Linked DNA regions of Homo sapiens: region 2 is linked to region 1. The links come from fine-mapping of genetic effects on gene expression. Tissue or cell type: whole blood. Region 1 holds a variant in brackets; the other region holds the start of a gene. All regions are shown on one strand. Distances are from middle to middle.

What was found. PIP is the estimated chance that this variant, and not a neighbour inherited with it, causes the effect.
Region 2: FMN1 starts here. The variant in region 1 is fine-mapped to the expression of FMN1 in whole blood (INTERVAL, PIP 0.99).

The regions. Positions count from the first base shown.
Region 1 is chr15:33,118,439-33,121,197 of GRCh38, forward strand. The region is part of intron 4 of FMN1 (formin 1); the gene reads right to left. Among named protein-coding and RNA genes, the nearest start is that of FMN1, 75 kb to the right of the region's middle. The variant T/G (reference allele first, on the strand shown) is at 1,374.
Region 2 is chr15:33,193,153-33,195,911 of GRCh38, forward strand. It overlaps FMN1 (formin 1), which reads right to left and starts at 1,562. Exons shown (of 21, transcript NM_001277313.2): 1 at 1,426-1,562; 2 at 757-908. It overlaps LOC105370759 (a long non-coding RNA gene), which reads left to right and starts at 1,759. Exons shown (of 3, transcript XR_932090.3): 1 at 1,759-2,423. RefSeq lists silencers at 1,541-1,880, 1,655-1,864.

The DNA of each region.
Region 1 (2,759 bases):
AAACAGAGAAATAGGAAAGTAAAAAATGTCAATTTCTCCCTTAATGCTGAAATTAATTACCTTTACATAATTTATTTTTCCTAGGTAATTTTTCTAATTTCAGTATAAACTTGTTGATAAGAATCAAGTGAAACTTGTTTGACAGGAATGAGGGACAGTTCCTGTAGGAAACAAGAAATCAGAAAATCTCTTCCTCTCACATCCTAATAATGCTCATATTAAATATTAAATACAAAAAGCATGATTTAAACAATTTCCATATGAAATATTAGATACAAATATTTTCACCTATTTTGGTTAAATAATCTAGATTAAGTATTTCTTGATATTGATACAGCATTTTATTACATCAACCTATCTTTAAAGAATGGTATAAAATCTTTAAATTTCAAACAATTTCTAGTCACATTCATACTCCAAAGTCTTTATGAAGAAAATAATGTCTATAAAAAAAGATTGGCCGTAAACCTTCCTTTACAAAAAAAAAAAAAATTAGACACATAAATTCTTAGTTTTGTTCAACATAATTGAATGAAAATGCTAATATTCAGATGGTATAATTTAAAAAATTGGAGATCAGCACCCCTGCAGGTATCAACTGGAGGACATCTGAATCAACTTATGCGACAAAACAATGACTTTTCAGCTAGAATTCTTCATAGTTCAGCCCATAAAAACTAGAAAGCTAAAAACACTAAGTAGAGAGAAACTTCTATTCTGATGATCTAGTTAGATTCATCTCTATGTTCAATGAACACCCTTCTCTCTCCACCTGCAACCCAGAGAACAGGCTTCTGTTTTCAAGCTTACCTTCCTCTGGGGTTACCGACCTCCTGTGCCGGCACTTCCAAATCCTGGGAACTGAAATGGACTGTCCATATCTTGGGCTACAGTGGTAGCAGGCACCCATGGTGCCAAAGGGTGGGGAGCCTGTGGTAAACATGATAGATTCTCAGGACAGCCTGGGAGGAAGGAGAATGTGGGGGATGTGCCTCCCCTGCTCCATCGCAAGAGCAACTGCTACAGTGCCACCCAGGAGGAGACTCTGCCAAGCATTAATGAGTCCACCGTCCGTACGCTCAGTGGGCCAGACAGGTTTCGCCACTTTATAGCCCTATTAATGATAAAACTTTCTGTAAAAAACCAGCACTATTCTTGAAGAGCTTGCTTTTATTTTCTTTCTCTTTCAAGGGATAGAAGTGATCACTCTGTTTTACAAAAGATGTTTTCAGTTAAACACAAAACTTCCAAAAATTTTTTCATTTTTTTGAATCATCTCTCAAAACTAAGCTCTCATATTCTAAAAACTGTTTGTACTATATTCGTCTTTAAAATGTGTTAGGAATTTCATTTTCAGATTTTGAAAGCCAGTC[T/G]TCTTCTTTGCTCTCATAAAATGACCTCCCCATCACTAGGTTTAGCCTTGCATGTAAACTATGAAAAATCACTGTATAATTATCTTAATGAGACTTTGTGTTTATATTGTGTCTTCTATCTAAAGAGCTCAAAGCGTTTTGCAAACATGATCTTATTAAGCGTCACAACACCTCATTCAGGAATGCGATGGTAAGGATTATTATTATCAATTTTAACAGGTGGGGAAACTAAGAGATTAGCAATTAAATGACTCAATTTGAGGTTACAATGTTAGTTAAAGGCACAGTTTGATTCAGGACTCTGACATCTATTTCCAAGGACATACCCAAGTGACCAATGGAGAGCAGCATAGTGAAATGAAAATTGTTTTTCACTTCTCAGAAATAATCTGTTCTTTTGCTCTACGGCTTTGAAGAACATTAAACATAAGGCAATTACAAAATAATTTGTTTACAAAACTTGGCACACCCTGCTAAAGATAGCAGATGTGCTAACTCCAGTCACTTTATTCTCCTTGCTGACCCTTTCCAAGGGCCATCATCATCTTCCAGGTCAATGGATTAGGTTACCAGTTGTGCCCATAGTGTTTACAGAGTGGTTAGCTACTGCACTTTTCCTACACACCGGCAGGGAAGACATGTTCAAAGTTAGCCATCTAGTGCATGTTTATTGGTGGACATTCCAGCAACAAGGAATTGTATAATCCAAAAAATGAGAAAACCTCATGTCGCCAACCCCAGAGATTACTATTTTTTTATGTGGGGATATACGAACACACACGTAGTGATACCAAGATACTGTTCGGCAGCTTTTGTTGTCTTTTCGTGTTCTGGTATTCCTGGATCATTGGTGTGTCAGTTCATATATATCTACATCATTCTTTTAAGTGACTACATACCCATTTTACAGACATATATATAAGATATGGAAAAATTTATTCTACCTATTACCCTTTTACTGCACATTTGGTTTTTTTAATCCTATGAACATTCTTGCATGTTTATGTATTTTTAAAAGTATTTCTTTTGAATCTACTTTCCATTTTTTTACAAGCTCTCCAGGACTCTTTCTTCTGAAAATATACCTGTTGCACTATACACTGAACTACTTATAGTACAGTAAGCCCATCATCTTGGATGCAAAGTAAATTCACCTCTTTTCCTCCCATTGCTTCTTGATAGAGGTTTTAGTCTTAATTATAGGATAGTACTCTGCCTTCATTCATATAACCCAAAAATGTAAACTGGAGAACCTTCCACATGGGACAGATGAAAGGTTGGCTAGATGATGTTGTAACAAGAGTATACAATACCCCATCTATGATTTACAGTCTACTTTCTCCAAGGACTTAGATCAACAACAACAAAAAATTAAACTCTTGCCTT
Region 2 (2,759 bases), 75 kb after region 1:
TAGTGTTTAGATATCTGATCAAGAAGACCCGAGACCTCATTGATTCATTGTGGAAGCAACATCTTCCACAACGACAGTTAATCTGGTATGCAATTCTCAGCTATACTGTTTTCCCTCCCAAAAAAGGGTTAATAAGTCTGTGATCCAAGAGATTTGCAGTAAGCCCTAGAAACAGCTAAGCAACGGCTGTTGAATCCCATTGGTGTGCCTATAAGATGCTACCTGGTGTAGAGAACAGAATATAATTCTCTCTCCTAGGAATTTAGATGCGCCCCTCCGCCCCCCTGCCAATACACACGCAAGGGGGCATAGCAGATGATGGCACATGTCCCATATGCAAACATGAATAGTAAACATGCTTTAGTACAGCTGGAGCTACTGTAGCAGAAAGTCAGGTTGTCTGCTACTCCACCTGGTCTTCTTAAAGGATTGGGTCTGGACATTCACCTCTCAGTGACTGCCACTCCCCATATATATCACAGGTTCAGGCTCTGCATTCAGCCCATTCGGAGTGTGTGAGTGCTAACATGGAACTCTCCAGGAGACAGCAAGCAGAAATGTGGATGATTAAAATAAAGGGTTTTCTTTGGCAATCTCAATTGCAAATGAGGATAAGGAAAATCCTCCCAGCTCACACTCTGCTCCCAGCTACTTGTTCTTGAGTTAAATGAGGGCTTGGCTCTGGCCTCAGGGGGCAAGAGCACTGTTCGTTATTTGGTGGTGGGGGAGGGGGTTGGGGGATCCGTCAGCACTTACATGCCTTTAGAGAATCTGCCTTTACAGAACTTGAAGAGCTCTGATGGAGGAACAGAGATGCTGTGGTGGTAGTGGCCTTGGAGGTGGTGGTAGTGGCAATGGTGATGATGATGATGATGAAAGAAGAAGAAAACGGTGATGGTAAATGTCATCTATAAACACAAGCAAAAAGCAGCAACAGATACCTTTCTAGTCATTGCCAACCATAGTCATGAAGCTGCTTCTGTTCCCAATGCAATCCCATTGTGGTGCTCCCCCTCTGCGCTAAACACATCCAGCTTCAAAAAAAAAAAAAAAAAAAAAAAAAAGCTCTGCATCTCTCCGTCCCCCGCCCTCCCGCCCTCCCGCCCTCCACCTTTCCTGTGCCAAGCTGGGAATGAGACTGCACTGGCGGGTCAAGGGGGCTGGGACCTGAGAGTCAACGACAGGAGTTCTGTAGTGAGGAGCGTTGGGATGACCCGGAGGGCCCACCAACGTACTTGGGAGCAGCTTGGTGGGGGAGCTGGAGGAACCGACACAGAAGGGGAGGAAGATAAGCTGGCGGGGTAAATAGACTTGATGCCTCATTCCAAGAACCCTGAAAGCCACGGGGGAAGGCGGAGCAGGCAGCCTTTGGTCGGGAAGAAGAGACGGGCAGATGGCCAGCAGAACAGACAAGACTCTCTTTACCTGACCAATACTCGGGAGGCTGGTCCCGAGTCCCAGCTACTCGGGAGGCTGAGGCAGGAGGATTGCTTACGGCAACAGCCGTGGCGGCTGCAGCCTCGAAGGATGCTGCGCTCCAGTCCAGAGCCAAAGCCCAAAGGGGCAGCTGCGCCGACCTCCACCGAGGCTCCGCCCCACAGGCCACAGGCCCCGCCTTCCTAGCACGCGCCGGCCTGACGAGCTGTTTGGGGGAGGTGAGCAGTAAACTGATCGGCAGGGCTGAAGACCAGTGGAAACGTGCAGCGGCGCCCGAGGTGGCAGGGGAGGCGGGGCGGGAGGCGGCGGTGCCCAATCAGCAGCCGAGCCGTTGGGCCAGGCTGGGAAGCAGTGCTGTCTTTTGGCACCGTCTGATCCGGGCTGAGGGATTGAAGGCGGTGGTCGCTAAGCTAGGTCTAAGACGGACAGCCAGGGCGACAACCAGTCTCTCGCTACGTGTCCCCAGCTTCCCTGTTTCCGAGCGCCTCTCAAGGCGCACGCTCTGGACTTGTTCAGATGGGGGAAGGGAACTGGTCTGGAACTCCCCACTATTCCCGAGGTTCCCACGCCTCCAGATCCGGAGAGGCCGTTTCGCTCCAGTGGCCTGGCCCCCCTGCCCCCTCAGCCTAGCCGTTCTTGATCGTAAGTGCTAAAAGGAACAAAGAAGGAGAATTCAAGAATCCACACATAAGCCCAAACCCTGACAGGAGCCTTTTCCTCTCCCATCTCCTGCCTACGCTTCCTCCTAGTAGCTTTTTAACTGCTGGCGGTTAAGTTACTTTGACTGGTTTGAATTAAACGCAAAATAGGTTTAGGCTGAGAAATGGGCCAGACCCTTGGCGATCTGAGAAAGAAAGACTGAGTCCGGATGTCAAGAGGCCTGGGCCTCACGAGGGAGTTTGTCTGCTTATTTGAACACCTCAGAGTTGAAGATCTTGTTACTGCTATTTCTGTGCTGGTGAATCAGTACAGACCTTGATGCCAAGGTACTGTTTTGTCCCCAAGTGTCTAATCATTACTGAAATGAACTACCTTCAAACCTTTCCTAAGAGGATTTGAGGCCTTAATGTCGTTGAGATTTGGAATGTGATTTGAGTGACACTGAGATCTTTTCCAAGTAGGTAGGCAAGAAAAGGCATTGTCTTTAATCTGCTTTTGGATAAATGCGAACTGTATCACCCATTTGGTACTTGAAGATAGAATTTTGTCCTGAATAGATTCTGTTTTCAAATAAGTAAATGGGAAAAAAATTTGGAAGGTATTTTTAAGGTGATTTTTTTCACTATTTTTTTTCTAGAAATAATAGTTTATTGGAACTCTGA